Linked DNA regions of Homo sapiens. The protein of the gene in region 6 purifies or fractionates together with the protein of the main gene of each other region. This does not show direct contact. Each region holds a gene or a part of one and is shown on either strand. Other genes may lie near its edges.

What was found.
Region 1: the proteins of SNIP1 (region 6) and YTHDC1 purify together in Homo sapiens (affinity purification with mass spectrometry; 4 studies listed by BioGRID and IntAct, with this or other methods). This does not show direct contact.
Region 2: the proteins of SNIP1 (region 6) and EIF4A3 purify together in Homo sapiens (affinity purification with mass spectrometry; 4 studies listed by BioGRID and IntAct, with this or other methods). This does not show direct contact.
Region 3: the proteins of SNIP1 (region 6) and ISY1 purify together in Homo sapiens (affinity purification with mass spectrometry, with the first as the bait; 4 studies listed by BioGRID). This does not show direct contact.
Region 4: the proteins of SNIP1 (region 6) and AQR purify together in Homo sapiens (affinity purification with mass spectrometry; 4 studies listed by BioGRID and IntAct, with this or other methods). This does not show direct contact.
Region 5: the proteins of SNIP1 (region 6) and CLASRP purify together in Homo sapiens (affinity purification with mass spectrometry; 4 studies listed by BioGRID and IntAct, with this or other methods). This does not show direct contact.
Region 7: the proteins of SNIP1 (region 6) and ACIN1 purify together in Homo sapiens (affinity purification with mass spectrometry; 5 studies listed by BioGRID and IntAct, with this or other methods). This does not show direct contact.

Annotation. Positions count from the first base shown.
Region 1 is NC_000004.12:68,315,391-68,319,684, forward strand, and holds part of YTHDC1 (YTH domain-containing protein 1), read right to left. Parts: intron 3,473-4,294; coding exon 3,436-3,472; intron 3,364-3,435; coding exon of another isoform or gene 3,340-3,363; coding exon 3,300-3,339; intron 3,192-3,299; coding exon 3,129-3,191; intron 1,059-3,128; coding exon 924-1,058; intron 1-923. UniProt on the Homo sapiens protein: Regulator of alternative splicing that specifically recognizes and binds N6-methyladenosine (m6A)-containing RNAs.
Region 2 is NC_000017.11:80,140,473-80,144,766, reverse strand, and holds part of EIF4A3 (eukaryotic initiation factor 4A-III), read left to right. Parts: intron 1-522; coding exon 523-595; intron 596-2,918; coding exon 2,919-2,985; intron 2,986-3,385; coding exon 3,386-3,448; intron 3,449-4,294. UniProt on the Homo sapiens protein: ATP-dependent RNA helicase. Involved in pre-mRNA splicing as component of the spliceosome. Core component of the splicing-dependent multiprotein exon junction complex (EJC) deposited at splice junctions on mRNAs.
Region 3 is NC_000003.12:129,136,512-129,140,805, reverse strand, and holds part of ISY1 (pre-mRNA-splicing factor ISY1 homolog), read left to right. Parts: intron 1-320; coding exon 321-438; intron 439-3,609; coding exon of another isoform or gene 3,610-3,675; intron 3,676-4,294. Other genes in the region: ISY1-RAB43 protein, read left to right, coding at 321-438. UniProt on the Homo sapiens protein: Component of the spliceosome C complex required for the selective processing of microRNAs during embryonic stem cell differentiation. Required for the biogenesis of all miRNAs from the pri-miR-17-92 primary transcript except miR-92a.
Region 4 is NC_000015.10:34,959,583-34,963,876, forward strand, and holds part of AQR (RNA helicase aquarius), read right to left. Parts: intron 1,233-4,294; coding exon 1,192-1,232; intron 1-1,191.
Region 5 is NC_000019.10:45,048,806-45,053,099, forward strand, and holds part of CLASRP (CLK4-associating serine/arginine rich protein), read left to right. Parts: intron 1-3,265; coding exon 3,266-3,363; intron 3,364-3,985; coding exon 3,986-4,087; intron 4,088-4,292; coding exon 4,293-4,294. UniProt on the Homo sapiens protein: Probably functions as an alternative splicing regulator. May regulate the mRNA splicing of genes such as CLK1. May act by regulating members of the CLK kinase family.
Region 6 is NC_000001.11:37,544,095-37,548,388, forward strand, and holds part of SNIP1 (smad nuclear-interacting protein 1), read right to left. Parts: intron 1,365-4,294; exon of another isoform or gene 469-1,364; intron 1-468. UniProt on the Homo sapiens protein: Required for pre-mRNA splicing as component of the spliceosome. As a component of the minor spliceosome, involved in the splicing of U12-type introns in pre-mRNAs. Down-regulates NF-kappa-B signaling by competing with RELA for CREBBP/EP300 binding.
Region 7 is NC_000014.9:23,063,526-23,067,819, reverse strand, and holds part of ACIN1 (apoptotic chromatin condensation inducer in the nucleus), read left to right. Parts: exon of another isoform or gene 1-460; intron 461-1,811; coding exon 1,812-1,854; intron 1,855-3,331; coding exon 3,332-3,465; intron 3,466-3,562; coding exon 3,563-3,715; intron 3,716-4,242; coding exon 4,243-4,294.

The DNA.
Region 1 (4,294 bases), on a different chromosome or scaffold from region 6:
CTCACAAATAGGCCCACTCTTCATCTTAAGTGGGAAAATAAAAAGATGTTTATTTGGCCCCATACAGACTCATCAACCTAAGTAGGGAGTGGAAAAAAATTCTAACTTGCATATCCTACTTAGTTTAACAACAAAACTACCTTTCTAAGGCTATCAAACTTATATGCATATGAATTATGCTTCCAACACTTGCCAGAAGACAATTCTGCTTTATAAATAAAAGTACTATTGGGGGGGGTGGGGAAGCATTTAATAAACTCAGCCCCACTAGTTAAAAACCCAGAAAACTCAAACTAAAACTAGAGTCTTTTTTTCACTGGTCCTGTTTTGAAGCCATCAAAAAAAGCTTTCACATCAATCTTATCAAATAATTAACAGAATCAATGAATAAAGGACATGTCTGCTACATATCATAACATCTGGTTATTCTTTGCTAACATCACAATAACCAGAGGTAAAACAATTTATCAGTTACTAGCTTTAACATTTGGTAGAAATAAAAACAAATGACTAAATGAGATTACAGCTTATCAGCTAACTTAATATACACGATCTATCCTAGAAAAATTGAGTAAGAATACACAAAAAGTTCAGAAATATCTATTAACAATATTAATTACATAGCATAATTAAGATCTCAATATGGAAAGAACATAGCCTAGGTACTACCTAAAAGGAGTTCTATTTGTAGGCGTTTGCCTTAAGCAGTTTGTGATTTGATCAGTAAAAGAAATATATTCTATCTATATAATCCAAAGGGGCATAATCAGGCATTTTTAATAAAAACAAACAATTATTCCAAAACAGTCTGCAGTAAGAATATGCAATGGTCCGTCAATCATCATACTCTGGTCTCCCCATATTTAAGTTACCTACAGAATTCTAAGTAGTTCCCTCACACCTTTGCCTCCTTGTGCACTTACTACTCGTTTATCTCTGTATCTTGCTTCATGTGGTACTGGATGATGTCCTGAGTAAGGGGGATGAGCTTGAGGAGGTGGAGCATGGTGCTGATAGTAAGGATGGTGTGGAGGTTGTTCCATTCCTGGGTAAGGGGGCTAAAAAAGGAAAACCATTTACATTAAGAATCTACCAACACCCTTGTAAACAAGCGATTCTTAGAACCCTTCATCCAAAACACCAATCCCAAACAAGTGAATCTGTACTAGACATTTACTTTGATGGCATTAAGGTGTTTCAAAATATGCTTTTTGTCGAAAATTACACATCTTCTAAGATTTAACATGTTTATGCTTTTCTACTCCTATCATATAAATAACAATGGAAATAGCAAACACTTACATGGTGCTTACTGTGAGCCAGGCATTGTTCTAAGCACTTTACTAGTCTCATTTAATTCTCACAGCAACCTTATGAGATAGATACTATTGTTCCCAGTTTACAAAAGGGAAAACTGAAGCAACAAGGAGTTAAGTAACCTGCTTATAGTCACACTACTGTTAAAGTGGTGAAGCAGGCATACGGCATCAGGCATCCTAGTTCTGCAGTTGGTAAACTGGTTAACCACTTTGTATGTATCTGTTCTTAGAAACATCAACAGGCCTGGTGTGGTGGCTCACGCCCATATCCCAGTGCTTTGGGAGGCTGAGGGAAAAGAATCCCTTAAGCCAGGAGTTGGAGACCAGCTTGGGTAACAGAGTGAGACCTTGTCTCTATAAAAAAATTAGCCAGGCACAGTGGCATGTGCCTGTAGTCCCACCTACTCAGGAAGCTGAGGCAGCAGGACCACTTGTGCCCAGGAGTTCAAGGCTGCACAGAGCTATCATCACACCACTGCATTCCAGCCTGGGAGACCGAATGAGACCCTGTCTCTCAAAAAAAAAGTCCAGGAGCAAATTAACTTTTAAATGCCATTTAAAAAATGAATAAAGGGTAAATTAAAGATTACTTTCATAGTTACTATCAAGATCATATATTATTAAATTTTTAAAATTTCCTAGAATCTAAAGGGGAAAAGTCTCATAATCATCTGCATATAATAGTATAAAACTGTATACCTTAAAAGTGAAACAAAAGTCAGATGAAGAGGCCATATAACATATTGCATTTAAAAAAAGACATAAATTAAAATGTAAGAAAACAGTAGAAGCTACTTCAACTTCCAGGTTTTTATTTCTTGAAAATTAATGCTTCAGCTATCTTCAATATCTTAAAATATACTCTAAGACAATTCAGTTTTCTTAAAGGAAATAATTAAAAAGCAGGAATAATCAGGGTTTAATTAATCTTATTTTACACAGAAAATTTAGTGAGTATTAGATCAGGCACTATGCTAAACTTAACATGTACTTTGTAAATTTATCTTGACAATGAAAATGACACTACTACATTAAATTTTAAGCTATACCAGGACAGTCATGATGTCAATTTCATTCACCATGATATAATCAGAACAAGCACAGTGCCTTGCACAGAGTAAGTACTAAATATTATATTTGATAAGACAAAGCATCAGTGAATGCCCATGGAATTTTACAGATGAGGAAAACTAAGAGTTGTATTAAGAAATTAACCCAAAGTCACAGAGTTGGGAAGAAAAAGAAATATATCTGAACCCAAGCGGACTTTGCACTACTAATTACTACCATAATACACTATTACAGTTCTCAAGCCTGTACTATTAACACAAATGAGCTTTTAGTCTTTAGTTTGAAAGACAGCATACAATTATTTATCATCAAAAATCTGTATTTTAAGTCTTTTTGAGATGGAGTCTCCCTCTGTTGCCCAGGCTGGAGTGCAGTGGCGCAATCTCGGCTCACTGTAACCTCTGCCTCCTGGGTTGAAGCAATTCTCCTGCCTCAGCCTCCCCGAGTAGCTGGGAGTACAGGCACACGCCACCACACCCAGCTAATGTTTTTTGTATTTTTAGTAGAGACAAGGTTTCAGTTTCACCGTGTTGGCCAGGCTGGTCTCGAACTCTTCACCTCAGGTGATCTAGCCGCCTCAGCCTCCCAAAGTGCTGGGACTGCAGGTGTGAGCCACGGCGCCTGGCCAGTTTAAGTCTCTTTAATGAGTAACTGTAACAATCATATTCCGAGTAAGCACCTGAAATACTAGAACTGCAAATTAAGTTATGTAACTTATAAAAATAGAATAATACAAACCATTCCTTGCCAAGGTGGTGGTGGTCCCATGTTATGAAATTCCCTCACATAATCATTGTAGGACTAAAATAAAAGATGATAATGTCAATATAATTAAAAATTATCACAGAACTGCAAAATAAATCAGAGCCTGATTTTATCCACATTAAATAGATAAAATGAAATGCTTACCCCATTTAAAAACACATCTCGGCGAACTCCTGAAAATCGTCTGTTGGGAATAAGATTTGTGAAACTAAATTCAGGTAATTCATAAACTAGTTCCAAGAATGTAATTCAAAACTAGGCAAGAGTGAACCCGACTTACCTGTCCACTTCCTGGTATCGTGGATCCTTTAAATACCCTGTTCAAACATCAAGCATTTTAGTAAATCAAATTTATATTTTTCTTTTATGGCATTATAATTAAACCTTCCTTACCACTCGTTTCAATTCTTTCCATGAAATATGTACTTTAAGTGATGCTACTACTGTATTATCCCATTTTCAAATTTTCTTCTCAGATTACATGATAATCTAGGAAATAACTAATGATATCATAGAATTGTAAACTGCTAGAGAAGCTTTCAGATAGGTATCTTCTATGTTCACACTCCAAATCTTGCTAATCAGAAAATTTCTTCCTTCTGCTTCACAGGGAAGGTAAGGGCAGAGGAACTATCTTGAGCACACTATGACAGGACTTCCTTAAAACAAATGTTTACTTTCCACCTTGGGTATATGTAGGTCTTACCAAGAAAACCACAGATAAGCTTTTTAAAATGTAAACTTAAGGGGGAGGGGGAAAAAATTGCAAAAGTTGCAAAAATGAAGATGTATACACTGAAAATGAAAAATCGATGGTGGTTAGAAAAATATTCTTTCCCCTGCTTCTTTTAATAAGAACCCAACAAATTAAAATGTAAAAACATTTGAGTAGTCATGTTACTGGGGAAAAACTATTTTCACTTTCTACAACAGGACAACCTATTTTGGAAGAATGAGGCTAATCAAGCCACTTGTTACATAATAGTGCTATAATGATCACTAACATCAATCTCCTAACTGCCTAAGTTTCACAAGTGTATCACTGACTCTCTTCAAATACATGATATCCCTTCTTGAATATAGTTTGCTCTCTTAAATTTCAGTAAGGGATAGATTAATTGAAAAGCTACATTTAGATT
Region 2 (4,294 bases), on a different chromosome or scaffold from region 6:
TTGTAGACCTGTCAGCAACACACAGACTTAATGCTAGCTAGTAGGAGAGAACAATGGCTAGAGTGACTTTCCTGTTTTTTTGTTGTTTTTTTTTTTAATTTAAAAAGTAGTATAGGTTGTTTGTAATCCAGTCAAACCTAAGGGAGTAATTAGAGTAAAAAGTAAGTTTCTTTCCACCCCTCTACTGCAGTAACTGCCAGGAACATTTTGGCACTTACACTTCCAGATGCTGCACACCCAGATTTTTTTTTTTTTTTAAACAAAACTGTTGTCTATATTCTACAATTTGGTGGTTTTTTAAAAATAGAGATTGGTCTTTACAAATAATATCCCACGTTAGTGTAGAAATCACTCAGCCCAATTCATTGAGCCCCTGGGTTTTGAGAGCTTGCTATGTTGAACACTGGGTTAGGCTGGAGGACAGGTTCAAAAAACAAACCATGTCTGCCCCTGAGGAGCTCACAGTACAGGGTTTCTATGCTGTCATTGTGGTGAGGGCTAATTTTTTGTTTTTATTTGCAGGTTTTGAAAAACCATCAGCAATCCAGCAACGAGCAATCAAGCAGATCATCAAAGGGAGAGATGTCATCGCACAGTAAGTTGTCCTGGGGTGCGGCGCAGGGCTGGATGTAAATTTGGGCAGCGCAGTGCAGTTAGATGCTCTGGGATGACTGTTTCCCTCAGCTTGTACACGCTCAGTTCCAACACTTTCCCTGACTTTAGCCACAGGGTTTAATACTTTTTTAAATTTGTGTTCTCTACTGTGGAAAGCTTTCATTTTCTTTTTGAGATGGAGTCTCGCTCTGTTGCCCAGGCTGGAGTGCAGTGGTGCCATCTCGGCTCACTGCAACCTTTGCCTCTCAGTTTCAAGCTATTCTCCTGCCTCACCCTCCCAAGTAGCTGGGATTACAGGCATGCACCACCATGCCCGACTAATTTTCATATTTTTAGTAGAGACGGGGGTTTCACCATGTTGGTCAGGCTGGTCTCAAACTCCTGACCTCAGGTGATCCACCCTCCTTGGCCTCCTAAAGTGCTGGGATTTCAGGCATGAGTTACTGCGCCCGGCCAAGGCTTTCATTTTCTTAGCCAGCTTTGCTTAGTGGTTTGCTGGCATGTGGAATTGTATATAACACAATTTCGGAAAAACAGACTGTGCTTTTCCTCTGCTCTCACACCACCACAACAGTCATCAGCACAGAAGAAGACTTCTGTGAGCAGAGGTGTGGGGCTTTTCCAGCTGGGTGTCCTCCAGTTCAACTCACACCACCTGCCTGGAGATAGGCCATATCCTGCAGGTTGACGGCTCAGTCCCCATGACTACCCTCTTTTCAGACACCAGTTATAAGTTCGGATCTCTAGAACTTCTGACCAAGCAGCTTCAAGTTGGGTTCCCAGGATCCCCTCTTTAGGTTGGATTAATTTGCTGGAACAGCAGCTCAAAGAACTCAGGGAAACACATTTAGTGGTTTATTATAAAGGGTACTGCAGAGGATACAGATATGGGGGGAGGGGTGCAGCCTCCAAGGGGCGGGTGGTCACCTCCCGGAACCTCCTTGTGTTCCACTGTCTGTGTTCAGCCATCTAGAAGCTCTTCGAACCCAGTCCTCTTGGGTTTTTATGGAAAATTCCATGAGGTCAGCATTCTTTCCCCCATAAGGGAATAGGGCAGGAGCTTTTCTGGGATAATACCATAATGCTTTTTAAAAAAAAATTTGAAATTTAAATTTTTTACATTTTTCGAGACAGGGTCTTACTCTGTCTCCCAGACTGGAGTGCAGTCGTGTGATTACAGCTCATAGCAGCCTCAAGCGATCCTCCCACCTCACCCTCCCAAGTAGCTGGGACTACAGGCACACATCACCATGCCCAATTAATTTTTGTATTTTCTGTAGAGACAGGGTTTTGTTGTGTTGCCCAGGCTGCTCTCAAACTCCTGGCAATCTGTCTGCCTTGGCTTCCCAAAGCCTTGGGATTACAGGCGTGAGCCACTGTGCCCGGCCTAAACATTTTTTTTGTTAAGATATGGGGCCTCACTTCGTCACCCAGGCGGGAATGCAGTGGTGCAGTCATAGCTCACTGCAACCTCTAACTTCGAGGATTAAGGAATCGTCCCGCCTCAACCTCCCAAGTAGCTGGGACTGCCAGAATGTGCCACCGTTCCTGGTTAGTTTTTTGTTTTGTTTAGAAATGGGGTCTCTTGCTGTATTGCCCAGGCTGGTCTCGAATTCCTGGCTTCAATTAATGCTGCCTCTGCGTCCCAGAGTGTTGGGAATACAGGCCTGAGCCACCACGCCGTGACATGAGGGTCTTTATGACTCACAATCTGAAAGGCAGGGAAGATTAGAGCCCTGCTGTGGAGCAGGTGAAAGGAGAGCAGAAGGTCAGAGAGATTGTTTCCTGAGGCCTAACCCATCAATTTAATAAGACTGTAATAAGGGCTATGGGAGCTGTGAGCCAGGAACTATGGATGAAAACTTGTATATAGCCATATCTCCTAGCACCACAAATCCTCTTTTAATAGCTTTATTCCTCGTTTGCCTAATTTCAAAAAAGACTCATTTACACAAAAATTTCTTTGGAAGAGAGAGTTAGTCCAAAATCCTAGAAGGAAAAGAGTTGTATTTAGATAAAGGGGAGTCCTCCTTTTTCTGACACCTATGAAACACCTCTTGAAGTTAGAGAGTCTGTGGCTCCATTGCCCCCGTGCAGAAGCCATGTCTACTCTCTTTCTTCATGGACACTTAACAAGCTGTGACACTGGGCCCGAGTCCTGCCTCCTCGCAGTTAAGATGTTATTAGGTACGGGGGCTTGCTGGAAGAAGGTACCTAAGTGCCTCTGGAGCCCAGGCCTTGGAGTGCAGCTGTGGCGTGGCCTGTCCTCCCTCTAATCCCACTGCTTTTGTTTCCTTGAATAGGTCTCAGTCCGGCACAGGAAAAACAGCCACCTTCAGTATCTCAGTCCTCCAGTGTTTGGATATTCAGGTAATTTGCCATTCTTAAAACAAACTGTTATGTAATTCTAGGAAATACTTGCTTTTTCTTCTGTAACTACAGTGTTCAAAAAGTACAATTTAAAATTTTCTAGTATGTATTGACTCAGCAAATTTTTACACAGAGTCTTAGTTGTACACTAATATATGCACTAATATTCTGTCATGATTTTCTATTTAACTAGAGGAAGCTCTTGTCTGCAGACGAGGATGCTGACACATTAAGTTATTGTTGGATTTGCAATTTAAATGACAATATTTGCTAACCTGTAAGAGATGAGAAGTATGATTAATATGAGATAGTATTTCTCATATAGATCTGAGTGTGAATTACTACAATCCACTTTGATAATACTGCGGATTCTCTATTTTCTGATAAATTATTTCACCAGGTTCGTGAAACTCAAGCTTTGATCTTGGCTCCCACAAGAGAGTTGGCTGTGCAGATCCAGAAGGTGAGATGGCTAAAGATAGCGGTGTCCGATTAACAAGTACTGCTTTTGTGATTTAGTTGTGAAACACCGACTTATTTATTTAATCCAATCCTGTTTTCTGATACCTCAAAATTTTCTTCCTGATTAACATTTTGCCATTAATCATTATATAAATTGCTGGTTTGTATTAAGTCATTTTTGGTGTGGCTTGTGTGCTCTCGGTAGTTTTTTACAGCCTTAGAAATGTAGATTTTTTGCGAAAAATCAATTTTAATAAAAATAAATTAGGTCGAGGTGGGTGGATCACCTGAGGTCAGGAGTTTGAGACCAGCCTGGTCAACATAGTGAAACCCTGTCTCTACTAAAAATACAAAAAATTAGCTGGGCGTGGTGGCAGGCGCCTGTAATCCCAGCTACTTGGGTGGCTGAGCAGGAGAATCACTTGAACCCGGGAGGCAGAGGTTGCAGTGAGCTGAGATTGTGCCGTTGTACTCTAGTCTGGGCAAGAAGAGTGAAACTCTGTCTCAAAAAAAAAATAAATTGTACCCATTTTATACTTAACGTAGTATAAAGATGTATGTTTAAAAAGATGTATATTAAGATGTTAATGCTGGTTTCTTCGGTGGATGGGATTATGAATTTTATATATTCTTTTCTGTTAATGATATAGCTTTTGTAATAAGAAACCAGCAGGCCGGGTGTGGTGGCTCACGCCTGTAATCCCAGCACTTTGAGAGGCTGAGGCAGGCCAATTACGAGGTCAGGAGATAACGACTCTCTGAATACACATATAGGGTGCACACAGCACGGTGTGCTAACACGGTGAAACCCCATCTCTACTAAAAATACAAAAACAAAATTAGCCTG
Region 3 (4,294 bases), on a different chromosome or scaffold from region 6:
TGAGGTCAGGAGTTCAAGACCATCCTGACCAACATGGTGAAACCCCGTCTCTACTAAAAATACAAAAATTAGCCAGGCGTGGTGGCACGCACCTGTAATCCCAGCTACTCAGGAGGCTGAGGCAGGAGAATCACTTGAACCCAGGAGGTGGAGGTTGCAGTGAGATTGTGCTACTGCACTCCAGCCTGGGCAACAGAGCGAGACTCCACCTCAAATAAATAAATGGGCAACAGAGCGAGACTCCGCCTCAAATAAATAAATAAATAATAACTAACTAACTAACTAACAGATCCATTTTCTCTTTTTTTCTTCCCAATAAGAAAGTTGGCCCTAAAATGCTGGATCATGAAGGAAAAGAAGTCCCAGGAAACCGAGGTTACAAGTACTTTGGAGCAGCAAAAGATTTGCCTGGTGTTAGAGAGCTGTTTGAAAAAGAACGTAAGTAAGTTTGTGACAGTTTTAGCCTTTCATTGGTAATAATCATAAGAGTAGATATGCTATATGCTAACTGCTCTTACTTTTTTTTCTTAGTTGCATAACAGCCTTATAGTGTAGGAATTATTGTTCCCAGATTTTAACTGAGAATTCTTAAGAACTGGGATAGAATCATAGGCCCATGCCATACAATTGGGGCTGGAAAGTGTGCCCAGGATTGGCTGGTGCAGGATTCTGCCTTTGGCAGGTGCTAATCTGTCAGTCTGGACAAGGAGTTTCCCTATTTGAAGTTTCCCAGAACGATTGGGGCAGGCTCTGAAGTTCATTGAATCAGGTCATGTTTCAGTTACTTATTAGTTGAACAAATGATAACCAAAGAACAAATACAATCTTGGGCCAAACCCTAAATGTAAAAATGGAGAAAAGTGAGGCCCAGCACTGTGGCTCATGCCTGTAATCCCAGCACTTTGGGAGGCTGAGGTGGGCGGATCACCTGAGGTAGGGAGTTAGAGACCAGCTTGACCAACATGGAGAAACCCCGTCTCCACTAAACATACAAAATTAGCTGGGCATGGTGGTGCATGCCTGTACTCCCAGCTACTCAGGAGACTGAGACAGGAGAATTGCTTGAATCTGAGGGGTGGAGGTTGCGGTGAGCCGAGATCGTGCCATTGCACTCCAGCCTGGACAGCAAGAGCGAAACTCCATCTCAAAAAAAAAAAAGGAGAAAAGTGGAGCTACTTTTGTGTGAATCCAAATAGGGCACACCCACCTTTCCTCCTTCTTTCAGCCAAACCTCCTGAATATAATTTGAAACTGTTAGTCTGGAGTTTTAGTCGGTTTTGATTTTGTGTTTTAGAAAGGTAGTCAACACTTCATAGGAAAAAGTATGAGAGGCAGAGAAGAATGATGCCAGTATTTTCACCATTATTAGCATTTTGTTATATCTCCTTCTAGTTGGCTTTTCTATTTTAAAAAAAATATAGTTCTATTTTTATTAAATGCTGCTTATTTTAAAATTCATTATTCCACAGCTAGTTTTGCATAGGCCACTACCATCCCTTAAAAATAATTCAGAGTTTAAATATTGTGCCATTAATTATGAAGGAATATATTTTTTACTACAGAGGAGTTATAGCCAGGCGCAGTGGCTCATGCCTGTAATCCCAGCACTTTGGGAGCCTGAGGCGGGAGAATCACAAGGTCAGGAGTTCGAGACCAGCCTGGCCAACATGGTGAAACCCTGTCTCTACTAAAAATACAAAAAAAATTAGCTGGGCATATGGCAGGCACCTGTAATCCCAGCTACTCAGGAGGCTGAGGCAGGAGAATCACTTGAACCTGGGAGGCAGAGGTTGCAGTGAGCCGAGATCGTCCCACTGCGCTCCAGCCTGGGCAGCAGAGCAGGACTCCATCTCAAACAAAAAAAAGTTATAAAATACAGAAAATCAGAAAAAAACCACTCACATTTTCACACCTCATATGTGATGATTGTTAATACATTAGGGCATTGTTCCCTCCAGTTTCTTTCTTTCTTTCTTTCTTTTTTTTTTTTTGAGATGGAGTCTTGCTCTGTTGCGCAGGCTGGAGTGTAGTTGTGCAATCTCGGCTCACTGCAACCTCTGCCTCCCGGGTTCAAGTAATTCTCCTGCCTCAGCCTCCCAAGTAGCTGGGACTACAGGCGCATGCCACCATGCCCAGCTAATTTGTATCTTTTTTTTGTTTTTGAGATGGAGTCTCGCTCTGTCACCAAGGCTGGAGTACAGTGGCCCAATCTTGGCTCACTGCAAGCTCCACCTCCTGGGTTCACACCATTCTCCTGCCTCAGCCTCCTGAGTAGCTGGGACTACAGGCATCTGCCACCATGCCCAGCTAATTTTATTTTTTTTTTGTATTTTTAGTAGAGACGGGGTTTCACCGTGTTAGCCAGGATGGTCTCGATCTCCTGACCTCGTGATCCACCTGCCTCAGCTTCCCAAAGTGCTGGGATTACAGGCGTGAGCCACCGTGACCAGTACTAATTTGTATTTTTAGTAGAGACAGGGTTTCACTGTGTTGGTGCCAGGGTGGTCTCGAGCTCTTTTTTTTTTGAGATGGAGTTTTGCTCTGTTGCCCAGGCTGGAGTACAGTGACGCAATCTCGGCTTACTGCTGCAAGCTCTGCCTCCCAGGTTCACGCCATTCTCCTGCCTCAGGCTCCTGAGTAGCTGGTACTATAGGCGCCCGCCACCATGCCCGGCAAAGTTTTTGTGTTTTTTTAGTAGAGACGGGGTTTCACCATGTTAACCAGGATGGTCTCAATCTCCTGACCTTGTGATCCGCCCGCCTTGGTCTCCCAAAATGCTGGGATTACAGGCGTGAGCCACTGTGCCCAGTACTAATTTGTATTTTTAGTGGAGACAGGGTTTCCCTATGTTGGCCAGGGTGGTCTCGAGTTTTTTTTTTTTTTTTTTTTTTGACATGGAGTCTTGCTGTGTTGCCCAGGCTGGAGTGCAGTGATGCGATCTCGGCACACTGCTGTAAGCTCTGCCTCCCGGGTTTACGCCATTCTCCTGCCTCAGCCTCCCGAGTAGCTGGGACTATAGGTGACCGCCACCACGCCCGGCAAAGTTTTTGTATTTTTTTAGTAGAGACGGGGTTTCACCGTGTTAGCCAGGATGGTCTCTATCTCCTGACCTCGTGATCCGCCCGCCTCGGCCTCCCAAAGTGCTGGGATAACATCCCACTGCTCCCGGCCGGTCTCAAACGCTTGATGTCATGATCTGCCCACCTCGGCCTCCCAAAGCGCTAGGATTACAGGAGTGAGCCACCTCGCCTGGCTGTTCCTTCCAGTTTCTAAAGGGTTGTGTTGGGGTGGCTCCTATATTGTGATTATGCTCTATATGTTAGGTTTTTTGCATTTACATTTTTCTAAATATATTTTTGCTTATTCCAGTGATAGAGTTTTGGGTTTTTAAATTTATTTTTCCTTTTTTGTCATCTATTGAAAAGATTTTTGTTTTAGAAAGAAAATGCATAAGTGAATTTTACTGGTTATAATTCAAATAGCACAGATAGAGTTAAAGTCCTCTTACCTCTACACTCATCCCAGTGCCCCTCCTAGAGGTAACTGATAACCATTATTATCTGTTTGGTATGTTCCTTTCCGGCCTTAAAAATTTTTTTATTTTTTTAGGCCAGGTGCGGTGGCTCATGCCTGTAATCCCAGCACTTTGGGAGGCTGAGGCGGGCGGATCACAAGGTCAGGAGATCAAGACCATCCTGGCTAACATGGTGAAACCCCGTCTCTGCTAAAAAAAAATACAAAAAATTAGCTGGGCATGGTGGCGGGCACCTGTAATCCCAGCTACTTGGGAGGCTGAGGCAGGAGAATGGCGTGAACCCAGGAGGCGGAGCTTGCAGTGAACTGAGATCGCGCCATTGCACTCCAGCCTGGGCAACAGAGTGAGGCTCTGTCTAAAAAAATAAAATTAAAAAATAAAAAATAAAAAAAAAAAGAAGAAGAAAATACAAAATTAGCTGGGCATGGTGGCAGGTGCCTATAATCCCAGCTACTCGGGAGACTAAGGCAGGAGAATGGCGTGAACCCAGGAGGCGGAGCTTGCAGTGAGCTGAGATCACGCCATTGCACTCCAGCCTGGGTGACAGAGCGAGGCTCTGTCTTTAAAAAAAAAAAAAAAGAAGAAGAAGAAAATACAAAATTAGCCGGGCGTGGTGGTGCGTGCCTGTAATTCCAGCTACTCAGGAGGCTGAGGCAGGAGAATTGCTTGAACCCAGGAGGCGGAGGTTGTGGTGAGCTGAGATTGCGCCATTGCACTCCAGCCTGAGCAACAAGAGCGAGACTCCGTCCCACAAAAAAA
Region 4 (4,294 bases), on a different chromosome or scaffold from region 6:
ACACCCAATCCTACCCCCAACAACGTGGCAAAAGTCAGTAATGGCATCACTAATCACTCAGCAACTTAAGCAAAAAATTTTAGGATCATCTTTGATTCTTCCTTTTCCTACATCTGCCACATCCAAACATCAAGTCTCTCCACCTCTATCTTTCTCAAATGGACAATTCCGCTCCCAACTTTCCACACAAGCCAAATCTATGACATCTTGAAGCTGACTACTACAATGCTCACCTAATTAATTCCCTGCCTCTTGCTCCCTCCAAATCCAAATTCTTGCTGGGTGCAGTGGCTAATGCCTGTAATCCCAGCACTTTGGAAGGCCAAGGCAGGTGGATCACTTGGGGCCAGCAGTTTGAGACTAGCCTGGCCAACATGGTGAAACCCTGTCTCAAAAAAAGAAAAAAAACAAACAAACCCAAATTCTCTTTTTCAAATACCACTGTGCTTACAACTCTTCTTACTTCCTACTGTTTTCCAAATAAAGAACAAAATCCTGAAGATGGCCTTTGACCCATTTAGTCAAATATCCTTTTAAAATACTCACTGGACATACATGTCTGCAGGTGTATATACAAAAAGATGCCTAAGACACGCTGTTAAATTTTTTAAAAGAAGCATGATGAAAAATAGCATGTAGAGTACAAACCCTTTTGTGTTTGAAAAAACATGTGAAGGCGTGGGGAATAGAACAGATGTATATGAACCATATACATGAACCAGGGATTGGGGGCAGAAAAGATGATTTATTGAAACTCACCCCTTACAGCATATTGCTCAAAAATAATTTTTATCACTTCTGTGTTTATTATTATACATTTTATACATTACATATGTATACTATATTATTGTAAATTTAATAATGTCTTACTTTCATAACTTTTTAAGAATATTTTTAAAAGGTGAATCAGAAATAATACTAGTAATAAAATCTTCATGTTTACTTTTTCTCAAATTCCATCTAAATCCAAATAAACCCTATGGGATTTGATACCTCTAATCTGAGCCAAAAGTTAGAAGGCAAAAAATAATTTATGACTCTTCAGCACCTAAAGTTTTTCTAGTCACCATTGCCCTGACGACCAGTTTGAAACAGAAAAAGGGTTCAAGTTATGATCACATTTAGAAGTTCAGCCAAGATCCAACTTGGTCCACCCCAATCACATTGTATAAAATTTAAATTCATTCCTACCTTGATTTGACAATCTCTTTTTCATATATATCTTCAATAACCTGTTATAAAAATATAAAAATGTTTAATATCTCAACAACTTTTTTCAACCCTAAATTGACAGTTTTTAATGAGTGAGATTATATAAAATAAGTTGGTTTAGGAAAGCCATCAAATATTACTGCTATTGAAATAATGAGATATTTAAAATAATCCCATTATATTCCTCGAAATATGAAATTAACAGAAAGCAAAGTAGAAAAAACAAATAATAAAACAGAGCCCTAGATTCATTAAAATGATGTGCTTATAAAGATTTTTAGGGAAAATAAAAATTCACAAGATCAGGATTTTTTTTAAACTTAAAGTGTATAAATGTTATGAGACTCCATTTGAGAGTCATAACTGTGTGCCTGCAAAACCCAGAGAGAAAATAATTTAAAAGTGTGAAGACATAACAGACACAAATTCTAATTGTTACATCTCTTTATCCAAATGAATATGATAGAGCTTCAGAATTTCCATTCATTTGAGTGAGGGTGGGCAGAATGGTGTACTACTTAAGAATTCAGACTCTGGCCAGGCACGGTGGCTCACGACTGTAATCCGAGCACTTTGGGAGGCCGAAGAGGGTGGATCATGAGGTCAAGAGATCAAGACCATCCTGGCCAACATGGTGAAACCCTGTCTCTACTAAAAATACAAATATTAGCTGGGCGTGGTGGCGCACACCTGCAGTCCCAACTACTTCGGAGGCTGAGGCAGGAGAATCACTTGAACCCGGGAGGCGGAGGTTGCAGTGAGTCAAGATCGCGCCACTGCACTCCATCCAGCCTGGTGATAGAGCGAGACTCCATCTCAAAAAAAAAAAAAAAAAAAAAAGAATTCTGACTCTGGAACTGTACATCTCAAAAAAAAAAAAAAAAGAAAAAAAGAACTCAGACTCTCGAATTGGAAGACTGGTTCAAAACATCTGCCTTCACTACTGATGGCTGGAACTCTTAGGCAAGTGCCTGACCTCTCCAAGCCTCAGTTTCCTTACCCACAAAACAGATCTAATAACACAAACTACCACACAGGGTTACTGAAAATAAAATAAGACAGGGCATATAAACAATTAGTACAAATACTGGCATACAGTGAGCCTTCACTAACAGTTATCAATAGCAGCAGTAGTAGTGCTAGCATTAATAATAGTAAAAAAAAATACTACTGTAAAATTATGAAGTGCTTTAACATGCTATAATATTATTGTATGGTAACTATAATGTCTTTTTTTTTTTTTTTTGAGATGGGGTCTCACTCTGTCACCTAGGGTGGAGTGTAGCAGTGCAATCACAGCTCATTGCAACGTCTGCCTTCCAGTCTCAACTATCCTCCAGCCGCAGCCTCCCAAATAGCTGGGACCACAGGCATACACCACCATACCCACCTAATTTTTTGTATTTTTGGTAGAGATGGGGTTTCACCATGTTGCCCAGGTTGGTCTTGAACTCCTGAAGTCAAGTGACCTACCGCCTCAGCCTCCCAAAGTGCTGGGATTACAGTCATGAGCCATGGTACCTAGCCTATAATATCTTTTAATTGCTCCAAGTACATTTGTGAAATAAGTATTTGTGAGTGGTAAAGGGAGGGAGGCGATAAGGAAAACAAGTCTTGTTCAATCTAGATGAAATGCTCTGTTATTGTTTTCATCAAATTTCAAATTAAATAATAAAATAAAGATTACTGGTTGGCCGGGTGTGGTGGCTCAAGCCTGTAATCCCACCACTTTGGGAGGCCAAGGTGGGCAGATCACCTGAAGTTAGGAGTTTGAGACCAGCCTGGCCAACATGGTAAAACCCCGTCTCTACTAAAAATACAAAAATTAGCAGGGCGTGGTGGCGTGCATCTGTAATCCCAGCTACTCAGGAGGCTGAGGCAGAAGAATCGCTTGAACCCAGGAGGTGGAGGCTGCAGTGAGCCAGAATCGTGCCATTACACTCCAAACTGGGTGACAAGAGCGAGACTCCACCTCCAAAAAAAAAAAATAAATAAAAGATTACTGGCAAAAACAAATATATATTCGTAAGAATTTAAGTTCAAATAAAGTAAGAAATTTTGGGTAAAAAGTTCAGTTTTACCAACAGTGCCTAAAGCATCACCATTAAATTTATAATGGCAAAGCTTAAGAGTCTTCATTACTTGTTGAATGGTATGCAGTGTCAACATCTATTTCATTTAAAGACCTCACTCTCTTTAAGGGACAGGGTCTCATTCTGTTGCCCAGGCTGGAGTGCAGTGGCCTGATTACAGCTCACTGCAGCCTCAAGCTCCTGGGCTCAGTCAGTCATCCTCCCGCTTCAGCTTCCAGAGCAATTGATACTACATGTGTGAGCCACTGCACAAGCCAATTTTTTTAATTTTTTTGTAAAGGCGAGATCTCACTACTGTCCAGTCTAGTCTCAAACTCCTGGCTTCAGGTGATCTTCCCTCTTTGATCTCCCAAAGCACTAGGATTATACGCATGAGCCACCACACCTGGCCTTAGACCTCTCTTTAAGAACCTAATCCAATGAGAATTAACCCTATATTTGGGAATTTGTCATATTATTTGTTCTAAATTGCTTCAGTTGGACTTATTCAATTGAATAAGTTCAATTCCCTTATTGAATATTACTGGACTTAAGTTATTACACTATACAACTGCTGCTCCTTCCATCTTTATTATAGACCTTTACCTCATTCACCACTCTAAAAACAAGATAACCCAACAGATTTAATCCTAAATGAACTATCAAAAACTTGTACAAAAATTTCTGTATATTTACAAAGATATTTATTACATGATCATTTATAATAATGATAAATTAAAAATAACCTAAGAATCTATAAACAGAAAAACAGTTAAGTAAATTATACACGTACACTTTTTTTTTTTCTTTTTTTTGAGATGGAGTCTCGCTCTGTCATCCAGGCTGGAGTGCAGTGGTGCGATCTCGACTCACTGCACGCTCCGCCTCCCAGGTTCACGCCATTCTCCTGCCTCAGCCTCCCGAGTAGCTGGGACTACAGGCGCCCACCACCATGCCCGGCTAATTTTTTGTATTTTTAGTAGAGATGGGGTTTCACCGTGTTGGTCAGA
Region 5 (4,294 bases), on a different chromosome or scaffold from region 6:
TGAAGCCCTGTCTCTACTAAAAATACCAAAATTAGCCAAGCGTGGTGGCGGGCACCTGTAATCCCAGCTACTCGGGAAGCTGAGGCAGGAGAATCCCTTGAACTTGGGAGGCAGAGGTTGCAGTGAGCCGAGATCGCGCCATTGCACTCCAGCCTGGGTGACAGAGCGAGACTCTGTTTCAAAAAAAGAAAAAGAATAGTATGTTTCTTCCATGGTTGGGACATTCGAGTGAGACAGTGCACATAAAACAGTGCCTGGTTTTTAGTAGGGTTCATTGACTTTTCCAGAATCTCCCAACAGAACCAGGCTCTGGACTCCTGGTGTTTACTCCCGGCTCAGTGCTTATTCCTTTCTGTGAAGCTGACCCTGCCAGTAGCTTCCCTGTACCTGCCAAATTCTGTCCTGCAAACAGTGTCCCATGAGTCCTGGCTGTGGGAACTGGGCATTTGGCCTGGAGCAGCCTCAGGAGTATGATGGGATCTTGGCCTTGGACTTGGCTGGCTTGTCCCAGGGCAGAGGGAGCTGGGTGCGCTGTGTGGCCCCAGCTGAGGAATCAGCTAAGGAATCGAGGGAGGCAGGCGAGGTGCAGCATGAGTAGCTGGACTCCAGCAGCGCCACCTCGCTGGGCCTGTGGTCTTGAGTGTTCCTTAGACTCAGTTTCTTTAGGTGTGAAATGAGAGTCACAGCAGCCCAGCACCTGGCACATAGTGAGTGCGGGGTTGAAACTAGCCAGGTATTAGCTGTGGTCCTGGTGAGTGACTCAGCTCCTTCAGCCCGGACTGCACCTTCTCATCTGCTGGCTGAGGGCTGAGATGGAGACAGAGTGAGGATGTGCAGGAGCTTGGAAACTTGGAGCTGGTGTTTTTTTCCTGAAGGGGCTCAGAGTCTTCATCTGTTAGTAAGGATTATTCCTGTCTTTCCTTCATTGGGTGTTCTCAAGCGCCTGCTGTGGGCCAGGCCCTGTTCTAGGCTTTAGGGATATAGCAGCCAAAACAGAGCCCTGCCTCCTGGGAGTTACGTTCTAACATGGGAGAAAGGTGATGAATGAATATTAGGTCCAGTGGCAGGTGGTAGCGGGTGCTCAAAAGAAAACAAGTGGAGTTAAGTGAGTGAATTGTGTGGTATATGAATTACTTCTCAATAAAGCCACAGAGTGAAGGAGCTGGGGTAGATAAGTGGGGAGCTATTTAGATAGAGTCACTGAGGACGGCTTTTAGGAGGAGATCTGAAATAAGCGGGGGAGCAGAAGCACAGAGGTCCGAGCAGAAGCACGGGGCATGTCTGGAATGCCCAAGGAATGGCGTGAGGCGAGGGCCTGTGTGCCTGGAGCAGAGTAGGGGAGGGAAGAAATCAGAGAGGGACAGGCCAGCACCTGTGAGGGCTGAGTGGTTGGGAGTGGGGTGGGGGGTGGGGTGCGGCCCAACATGTGTCAGCAAATCTCCTGGAGGCAGAGCCCAGCCTGGACCAGACTGCATCCACACATTGAAAGATGACCAACATCATTAGCCATCAGGGAAATGCCAGTCAGAACCACAAGATACCACTTCACCCACACTAGGCTGGCTGACATGGAAAGGACAGACTATAACAAGTAGTAGGCCAGGCATAGTGGCTCATGCCTGTAATCCCAGCACTTTGGGAGGCCAAGGCAGGCGGATCACCTGAGGTCGAGAGTTCAAGACCAGCCAGACCAACATGGAGAAACCCCATCTCTACTAAAAATACAAAATTAGCTGGGCATGGTGGCGCATGCCTGTAATCCCAGCTACTCAGGAGGCTGAGGCAGGAGAATCGCTTGAACCTGGGAGGTGGAGGTTGCAGTGAGCTGATATCGCACCATTGCACTCCAGTTGAAGATCCTGATTTCTCTATATTCTTGTCACTACTTGTGTTTTGTTTTGTTTTGTTTTGTTTTTTGTTTTTGGAGATGGAGTCTCGCTCTTGTCCCCCAGGCTGGAGTGCACTGGTGGGATCTCTGCTTATTGCAACCTACCTCCACCTCCTGGGTTCAAGCGATTCTCTTGCCTCAGCCTCCCAAATAGCTGGGATTACAGGCGCCTGCCACCATGGCTGGCTAATTTTTTTGTATTTTTAGTAGAGACAGGGTTTCACCATGTTGGCCAGGCTGGTCTCGAACTCCTGACCTCAGGTGATCCGCCTGCCTCGGCCTCCCAAAGTGCTGGGATTACCGGCGTGAGCCACTATGCCCGACCCACTGCTTGTTACAGTCTGTCCTTTCCATGTCAGCCAGCCTAGTGTGGGTGAAGTGGTATCTTGTGGTTCTGATTGGCATTTCCCTGATGGCTAATGATGTTGGTCATCTTCCCATGTGCGGATGCAGTCTGGTCCAGGCTGAAGTGTCCACACCAGTCTCTAAATGAACGGCCCGGAGGATGGGAGGTGAAGAGTTAAGGGGGCTGATATTTTAGAGAGCGAGGTCTTCGTACTGGCTATGCAGAAGATTGAGCCACCACCTCGAGAGGAACCAATAGCTTATTTCTTCAATTTCTTTTTTTTTCTCTTTTTGAGATGGAGTCTTGCTCTGTTGCCCAGGCTAGAGTGCGGTGACACAATCTCAGCTCACTGCAACTTCTGCCTCCCAGGTTCAAGCGATTCTCCTGCCTCAGGCTCCCAAGTAGCTGGGATTACAGGCATGTGTCACCACGCCCAGCTAATTTTTTGTATTTTTAGTAGAGCCTGGGTTTCGCCATGTTGGTCTGGAACTCCTGACTTCAGATGACCTGCCTGCCTTGGCCTCCCAAAGTGTTGAGATTACAGGCGTGAGCCACCATGCCTAGCCAATTCCCTTATTTCTGAAGGTTAGCAGGTTGGTTCACCTCTGAGGTATGGCCCACTTGACCTTAGAAGTGAGCTTGCTGCAGGCCGGGCGCGGTGACTCATGCCTGTAATCCCAGCACTTTGGGAGGCTGAGGCGGGTGGATCACGAGGTAAGGAGATCGAGACCATCCTGGCTAACACAGTGAAACCCTGTCTCTACTAAAAACACAAAAAATTAGTCGGGCATGGTGGCGGGCGCCTGTAGTCCCAGCTACTCAGAAAGCTGAGGCAGGAGAATGGCGTGAACCTGGGAAGCAGAGCTTGCAGTGAGCCGAGACAGCACCATTGCACTCCAGCCTGGGCGACAGAGTGAGGCTCCATCTCAAAAAAAAAAAGAAGTGAGCTTGCTGCTAAGCTCGGTTGTGTGTGAGGGGGTGGGGTTTGGAGCTCTGTTGGGTGGTGACCTCAGTCCTGTTTACCCCTGCAGAAGAAGGACCCAGCCCAGTTCCTGCAGGTACATGGCCGAGCTTGCAAGGTGCACCTGGATTCTGCAGTCGCCCTGGCCGCTGAGAGCCCTGTTAATATGTAAGACTGATATGGAAGGCAGGGGAGTGTCTGAAGTCTGGGAGTCAAAACGGACCTGGGGTGGTGTAGAGTGTGGAGCAGAGACTGAAGTATGGACAGACCTTTGGGGACTCAGAGGCAGGGAAGGTGTGACCCGCATATGAAGGTGATAGTCACAGGGTGTAAGAACAATGAGCAGGGGTTGGGGTGGAGGCCCCAGAGTAGCAGTCATGGTTGGAGGACTTAGAAATGGGTGGAGCCAGGGCCAGAGGCCCAGAGGAAGCAGAGAGTAGGTTGCCAGACCCGAGCTGGCTCAGGGTGCCTGGGGCCCGCCCCTCAAATACCCTCTAGGACCTGGTTCAAGTTCCCCACTATTGCTTGGTTGTGAGAAATGGGGCCCTGGTGTCCCCAGGGGCAGTCAGATGACTGGCCTGTTTCAGGTCCCAGGAGCCTGAATGTGGATTCAGGGAGGCTTGCAACAGAAGGGACTGAGAGCTGGGGGTTGAGGTGAGGGTCATGGCATGGGGACCAAAGCAGGCTGAGGGCCAGGCTTCTAAGCCTCAGCTGGCAGGGAGCAGGTGCTTTGTGTCCTGGGCAGTATGGACCCTGAGGTTCTTGCTTTCTTGCTCCCCTCCCACTTCAGGATGCCCTGGCAGGGGGACACCAACAACATGATTGACCGATTCGATGTCCGTGCCCACCTGGACCACATCCCCGACTACACCCCCCCTCTGCTCACCACCATGTAAGCCACCTCCCAGGGGGTTGCCAGGCACAGCGTCATACCCAGGAGCCCCTGTTCTTTTCCCAGCCTACCTGTCACCTTCCTAGGAGCCGTTCCTATTTGGTACCGCCCTGAGCCTGAGGGGGATGCCTCATTTCCCTTCCTGCTGGCTTGGGGGGGGATCCACTCCTTCTCTCTGATTTCAAGGTCTCGCCCTTCCCTAAAGCT
Region 6 (4,294 bases):
GATGGAGCCACTGCATTGTAGCCTGAACGACAAAGAGAGACTCCGTCTCAAAAAAAAAAAAGAAACAAGAGGCCGGGCGAAGTGGCTCACGCCTGCAATCCTAGCACTTTGGGAGGCTGAGGTGGGTGGATCACAAGGTCAGGAGTTCAAGACCAGCCTGGCCAAGATGGTGAAACCCTGTCTGTACTAAAAATACAAAAAATTAGAAGGGCGCGGTGGCAGGCGCCTGTAATCCCAGCTACTTGGGAGGCTGAGGCAGGAGAATCACTTGAACTCGGAGGGCGGAGGTTGCAGTGAGCCGAGATCACGCCACTGCACTCCAGCCTGGGTGGACAGAATGAGACTCTGTCTCAAAAAAAAAAAAAAAAAAAGAAAGAAAGAAACAAGTCTTATAGATGTAGATCCCCAAGGACTTCATTCATGTACAAAAATGTTGTTGTGTATTCTTGTTTCAAAAAGAAAAAAATGAGACGTTCTTTGCGGAAAGTCCCTGGAGTTTCCTGGTTCAACAGTGCTTGGACGGAACCAGGCACTCGTACCCCACTCCGGCTGGCCGCCCATAGCTAGCCCTCTGTTACCTCTTCACTGGGCCCTCTGACTGTCCCAAGGCCCCCGCCGCCACTCCAGCGCCGTGCAGCCACCGCCGCACAGCCACCGTGGCCACCACCATGACGACTGCGCGTCCCCCTCGCAGGTGCGCCAGAACTACCGCCATCAACCGCCAGATCAACGTGGAGCTCTATGCCTCCTACATCTACCTGTCCATGTCTTACTACTTTGACCACAATGATGTGGCTTTGAAGAACTTTGCCAAATACTTTCTTCACCAATCTCATGAGGAGAGGGAACATGCCAAGAAACTGATGAAGCTGCAGAACCAATGAGGTGGCTGAATCTTCTTCCTTCGGGACTTCAAGAAACCAGACCATGATGACTGGGAGAGCAGGCTGAATGCGATGGAGCATGCATTACATTTGGAAAAACTTGGGAATCAGTCACTACTGGAACTGCACAAACTGGCCACCGACAAAATTACCCCCATTTGTGTGACTTCACTGAAACACATTACCTGAATGAGCAGGGGAAATCCATCAAGAATTGGGTGACCATGTGACCAACTTGCGCAAGATGAGGGCACCCGAATCTGGCTTGGCAGAATATTTCTCTGACAAGCACACCCCGGGGAGACAGTGATAATGAAAGCTAAGCCTTAGGCTAATTTCCCCATAGCCATGGGGTGACTTCCCTGGTCACCAAGGCAGTGCATGCATGTTGGGGTCTCCTTTACCTTTTCTATAAGTTGTACCAAAACATCCACTTAAGCTGATTTGTACCATTCCTTCAAATAAAGAAATTTGGTACCCCCCGCCCCCACCAAAAAAAAAAAAAAAACAAAGAAAAAACTTCTTGTTATGGACTAGGTAAGGTACAAAAATGTTTACAGATAATTAAGGTTAAAAATTTTAAAGCAGAGAGCAGTAAGAGACTTTCAAAATGATTAGGGAGAAAATTAGAATGACACAAAAATTAGCATGGCCCCTAATTTAAAAAATACATAATAATAATAAAAATGATTAGGCAGGCAGGACGCAGTGGCTCCCACCTGTAATCCCAGCACTTTGGAAGGCCGAGGCGGGTGGATCACTTGCGTCCAGGAGTTCGAGACCAGCCTGGGTAACATAGTGAGACCCACCCGCCGCCCTCTCTAAAAATAATAATAAAAATAAAATTAAAAACTAAAAATTTAGGTGACTCCACACCCATTAGGATGGCTACTATCAAAAAACTGAAAATAACAAGTATTGGCAAAGATGTGGAAAAATCAGAACCCTTGTACACTGCTGGTGGGAATGTAAAATGGTATAGTTAGTGCGGAAAACAGTACAGTGGTTCCATAAAAAATTTAAAAATAGAATCGCCATATGATCCAGCAATCCCATTTCTGGATATCCCAAACAAATGAAAGCAGGGTCTCAAATAGATACTTGAGCATCCATGTTCATTGCAGCATTATTCGCAATACCCTAAAAGTGGAAGCACTGGGACTAAGACCCCCCCCCCCCCCGCTCCCTGCCATACACAGGGCTCAAGTGAGGGGCTGCTTGCTTAGAGTGGGACTCAGTTTTTCTAGACTTCCTAGCCTAGCACAGACATGCATCAAGAGAGAGCCTCAGACAACCACCCTTCCTACTCCAAAACATTTACAAGCTTGCCACTGCTATCTGCCTTGAGTTCACCAGGACTAATCTCATCATGTCCTTTATCCCTTATTAAGAGTCATTATAATAAGCCATAACGGCCGGGTGTGGTGGCTTATGTCTGTAATTCTAGCACTTTGGGAGGCTGAGGTGGGTGGATCACTTGAGGTCAGGGATTCAAGACCAGCCTGGCCAACATGGTGAAATCCCATCTCTACTAAAAATACAAAAATTAGCTGGATGTGGTGGCACGTGCCTACAGTCCCAGCTACTTGGGAGGCTGGGGCAGAAGAATCACTTGAACGCCAGAAGTGGAGGTTGCAGTGAGCCAAGATTGCACCACTGCACTCCAGCCTGGGTGACGGAGTGAGACTCTGTTTCAAAAAAAAAGAGAAAGAAAGAAAGAAAAAGTATTGTTTTTAAAAATTCAGTTCCCAATTCCTCTCCTCTGTCTTCCCTTGAACCCCTCCAATCAGGTCTCACCCTTATTACTCCACTAAAATTGCTGGTCAAGATCACCAGTGACCTCCATGTTGCTAAATCCAGTGGCCAATTCTCAGTCTTCATTTCACTTAACTATCAGCAGCATCTAACAGAGTTAATCACTCTATCCTCAACACACTTCCTTCTAATGGCTTCAAGTTACCAGATTCTCTTGCTTCTCTTTCTTTCCAGTCTTCTTTGCTGATGTCACTGCAATTTCTTCACACTGGATCGCCCCTGGATTCAGTCCTTTGTTGGTTGTTCTTCTATCTACAGTCATTTCCTTAGTAATTTTCATCTAATCCTAATACTTTACATACACCTATATGCAGGTGAGTCTCAAATGTTTATCTCTCCGTTATTTAGAAAGAGGGTCACTGCAGATGTAATAAATTAAGGTCATACTGAAGTAATATAGGTCATTAATCCCACGTGACTGGTGACCTTGGAAGAGAAGAGATAGAGAGATTCATGGGAGAAGGCCATGTGATGATGGACAGAGAGTCTATATCATAGTGATTACCTCTGGCAAGTGAGGTGGAGGTTTTTTGGTTGAGGAGGTGGTGCAATTTTGGGGACGAGAGAAGTAAACCATACTCTCATTTTATATTTTACATACCTCTGTATTATTACAATGAGCATGTAATCAATACATTTGTTTCGAAAATGGTGGTTCAGTTGGGTACGGTGGTTCATATCTGTAATCCCAGCACTTTGGGAGGCTGAGGCAGGTGGATCACTTGAGGTCAGGAGTTTGAGACCAGCCTGGCCAACATGGTGAAACCCCGTCTCTACTAAAAATACAAAAATTAGCCGGGCATGGTGGCACGTGCCTGTAATCCTAGCTACTGGGGAGGTTGAGGCACGAGAATCGCTTGAACCCAGGAGGCAAAGATTGCAGTGAGCCAAGATCACACTACTGCACTCTAGCCTGGGCAACAGAGCAACACTTCACCAAACAAACAACAACAACAACCAAAAAAAAACACAAAATGGTGGTTCAGAGGTTGAGAAAAGAATAAAGTAATCATTTGGTATCCTCAGGAGATTGGTTCCAGGATCCCCAGTGGATAAAAAAGATTATCTCAGGGCCAGGTGCAGTGACTCATGCCTGTAATCCCAGCACTTTGGGAGGCCAAGGCAGGTGGATTACGAGGTCAGGAGATGGAGACCATCCTGGCTAACATAGTGAAACCCTGTCTCTACTAAAAAAAAAATACAAAAAAATTAGCCAGGCATGGTGGCGGGCGCCTGTAGTCCCAGCTACTCAGGAGGCTGAGGCAGGAGAATGGCGTGAACCCCGGGAGGCGGAGCTTGCAGTAAGCCGAGATCGCACCACTGCACTCCAGCCTGGGCAACGCAGCGAGACTCCATATCAAAAAAAAAAAAAAAAAAAAAAAGATATCTTAGGATGCTCAAGTTCCTTATATAAAAATCTGTGAATATCCTTCTGTATACTTTAAATCATCACTAGGTTATTTATAATACCTAATACAACGTAAATGCTATATAAATAGTTGTTATACTGTTATTTGTCTTTTAAAATTTGCTTTTTTTTTTAAAACAGTCTTGCTCTGTCACCCAGGCTGGAGTGCAGTGGTGCGATCTTGGCT
Region 7 (4,294 bases), on a different chromosome or scaffold from region 6:
CCCCTCCCCAGTTACAGGCAGAGGAGAAAGGGACTCTGGAGTCATCACCTGGATTCCAAGTATTGGGTGGTGTTATTGCTGCAGCTTGCCACTGGTGGACATAGGGTCCTGCCTGCCTCTCACGATAAAAGGCAAGGATCATTCCTGCTACTCACAGGCCATCTCATCAGGGACTGCAAGATGATGTCCCTTCAGGGCCAGGACTGATGTCTCTGCCCCTTTCCCCCCTCTATCCCTCGCTGAGCCTGGCCACCGCCAGTGAACTGTCTTGACATCATGGAAACTGGGCAGCGTCCCCCCACACGTTTCCCTCCCGCCCCCCCTGCGCCCCTGGGAGGACTCTGGCAGTGCCGTGCTGACTACCACGCCGTGCGCCCACCTTTTTTGCCAACCCAACCCCCCACCAATTGCACAGCGCCTAGCAGGGAGGGCTCATTCTGATTGGACCGGCGGTTGACTAGATACAGTACACAGTGAGGTGCGATTGGCTGAACTGAAGATCCCAGGTGTGAGATGGTACCTGGAACATTTGTCATATTCCTAGTTTATTTTCTTCTTTATTTTCTTCTTCTTTTTTTAATATTTTATTTTATTTTTTTCTATATCTTTATTTTTTCTGATTTCTTTTATTTATTTATTTGGTTCATGTTTTTCCTGTTTTAATTAAGACCTTTTTTTTTGTTTTGTTTTTCTCACTAACTTACCCATCGAGAGCGGCCCAGCTAGGGGTCAGGCTGGCCCTTAACAGAGACCAAGGAGACTTGGTTAGACGACACAAACGGGGCTGCGGGTGGGGGTGGATGGGAAAGGGATTTCATCACGAGGTTTCTGCCCTACCCTTTAGAAGAGTGGTAGAGTGGTCTTAGTTTTTCCAGAAATAAGCACCTACACTTGAAAATACTCTATTCCCTTTTTCTCTCTCACTTTTCTCCCCCGCCCCCCATAGTCTTTCGTCATTCACCCACTGAGTGTTTGGGGTAGAGACTTGTCCCAAAGATGTCTTCTGGTCTTTGGCAGAGCCCCTAAGGCTTGAGCCCTGGTTGGAGAGGAAACAGTAAGACTCTGCTGGAGCTCCCTGCGGTGGCTGGAAAGTCTAAGGATCTCCTTGGGGACAATCTGCCCTTCATAAAAACCTTCCTTTATCAAAGACACCTTTGAGTTCTTTTTGCTAGCACTTGGCTCAAGAGCCTCATCTCCAGTGGGTCTGGTGCTGCCCTTTTCCACAGTGTGGTGGGGGTCTGGGCAGTCTTGACATGACAGTCTGCTGTCCAAGCATCTCAAAGCCATTGTCAGTGGGCATCAGTCTGGCCATTGAAGAAAGGAGGGTTACCTTGTTGAAGTTGCCATCCAAAGTTGGTTTTCCTTGTTTCCTCGAGTTAGCAAGGAAGGACCTGGGAGGACTAGATGACCCAGTTTGGGGCACAGTTTGTTTGGCTTGGTGTCCTCTCGACTCAGACGGTGAAAGAGGGGGTATGACCAACATCTTTAGGGGGCTGAGAGGCTACTGAACTCCTCTTCCAGCTTATTTCTGGTTAAGCTAATACACAGGTGTGATACGGAGTAGATGACTTTTCCCTGCTCTGATGTTTAGTTTTATTTTTTTCTCTAACTTGCATTGATTCTGCTTCGTTTTTGCCGTTTGCCGCTTCTGTTTTGGTCTCTGTCTGTCTCTGTGTCTCTCTCTGTCTCTCTCTCTCACTCTATCTGTGTCTTTGGAGGCTAAGCTAAGACTGCCCCATCTAACCTCCTTCCCCCCTCTCTGTGGGGTGTCTCTCTTTCTCTTTTTTTTCCCCTTTTTCTTCTTCATACAGAGCTCGCTGCCCAAATCATTCAAGAGGAAGATCTCCGTTGTCTGTAAGTCCAGCCCCAAATCCCTGATAAAAGTCAGGAATACCATAAAAACCAGCATTCATTGAGAACCAGAATTTCATTCTCAATGGCATTCTTGGGTCACTCCCTCCTGCCCCACCCCTTGTGCCTAGCAAATCTGAATCCTTTCCTATGTAGGGTTTCATTTTGGAATTCAAAACTTGAGACAATCCCCATCATATTGCTCCAGTCACATTTTAATGAGATACAGTGTGAGGTGTCTGAGACCATGTCCCATTTAGCCTTAGAGGCATTTATTCTTTCAGATACCTGAATACTCAACAAGGAATGAGTTTCAGGGACTCCTATGTGATGCTTAGCAGTTTATGAATTATTCTGGGTATTTTGTTGTTGTTTTTTTGAGACGGAGTCTCCCTCTGTAGTACCCTAGGCTGGAGTGCAGTGGTGCGATTTTGGCTCACTGCAACCTCCGCCTCCGGGTCCCAGTTCAAGCAATCCTCCTCCGCCTCCTGAGTAGCTGGGATTAGAGGCATGCGCCACCATGCCCAGCTAATTTTTGTATTTTTAGTAGAGATGGGGTTTCCCCATGTTGGACAGGCTGGTCTTGAACTCCTGACCTTGTGATCCGCCTGCCTTGGCCTCCCAAAGTGTTGGGATTACAGGCGTGAGCCATCGTGCCTGACCTTGTTTATGCGTTATTCTAAGAGAGCACCCAAGGAAATGAAAGTGCCCCACACCTCAAACAGTAACAATTTTAACATTTTCCCCAATGAGGAACTCTAGATTACAAAAGTATAATAGATGTTTATAACTTAAATATCAATCTGTAGTGTGAAAATTAAAGGAAGACCAGATCCCATCATGATCTTAGTTCTGCCTAGATGTTAGTATCACATAGTGTTCTTGTTTCTTCTGCATTTACATGTCCTTCTCAGTTTTTCTTCCACACTACTTGATATTACTGTCTACCATTAAAAGTTTAAACGGCTCATCAAACTAGCTACCCCTCCCTTACTGCTTTTAGATCAGTGTTCAGTCTGAAGCCATGGTTTCCCCAGTTCCCAAATATGATTTCTTTTCTTTTTTTTTTTTTGAGACGGAGTCTTGCTCTGTCACCAGGCTGGAGTGCAGTCAGTGGCACCATCTTGGCTCACTGCAGCCTCCGCCTCCCGGGTTCAAGCAATTCTGCTTCAGCACCCTGAGTAGCTGGGATTACAGGCATGCACCACAACGCCTGGCTAATTTTTGTATTTTTAGTAGAGATGGGGTTTCACCATGTTGGTCAGGCTAGTCTCAAACTCCTGACCTCGTGATCCACCCGCCTTGGCCTCCCAAAGTGCTGGGATTACAGGTGTGAGCCACCACACTCAGCCTCCAAATATGATTTCTTTAAGTTAACCTTTTACCAAAACTCCAGCCAGAGGTAACCTGTAGGTATTACGGTTTGAACTAGCAGAGGTCCTGAGACCATCTAACTGTTGGGTCTATTTCTTGGGGACAGCAGCTACCAAGGGGGTGCCAGCTGGAAACAGTGACACAGAGGGGGGCCAGCCTGGTCGGAAACGACGCTGGGGAGCCAGCACAGCCACCACACAGAAGAAACCTTCCATCAGTATCACCACTGAATCACTAAAGGTGAGGTGGGAGGAGCCAGGGAAGGGAGGATGAGACCTGTTAAGGTGGGAGTAGACATGGGCCCAGTGTAACGGGGTGGGGGGTATCTGTGTCCCAGAGCCTCATCCCCGACATCAAACCCCTGGCGGGGCAGGAGGCTGTTGTGGATCTTCATGCTGATGACTCTCGCATCTCTGAGGATGAGACAGAGCGTAATGGCGATGATGGGACCCATGACAAGGGGCTGAAAATATGCCGGACAGTCACTCAGGTAAGGCTTCTGCACCCCAGTGTCAGGGGAAAGGTGGGAGCAGTAGATGCAGAGCAGCTAGCTGAGGAGCTGAGATAAAGTCTTTGGAGGGAACTTCCCTGTCTGTGCAGAGGGTTGGGTTGACTGACACTTTCAGGGGTCAGACTACCAAATCCAGCTGGCTACCTGTTACAAATAAAGTTTGATTGGAACACAACCACACGAGTTCATTCACTTTTGTCTGTGGCTGTTTGTTCACTACAACATCACCAGAGTTGAGTAGTTGCAACAAACTATGTGGCCTGCAAAACCTGAAGTACTGCTTTGCTCTACAGAAAAAATTTACTAACTCCTGTCTTAGTTTTCCTCAAGGCAAAGTTGAGGCACTAACAATCCCAGGATCTGGTAGAAGTGAGCCGATAACGAAATACCCCTAGCGGAAGGAACATGCTAGATTGACTGCTACTCTTACCGGGGAACCAGAGGCTGAAAAGAATATGCCAGTTTGGTGTTTAACAGACCTGCTGTGTTCTCTGACACCTTGATAGGTAGTACCTGCAGAGGGCCAGGAGAATGGGCAGAGGGAAGAAGAGGAAGAAG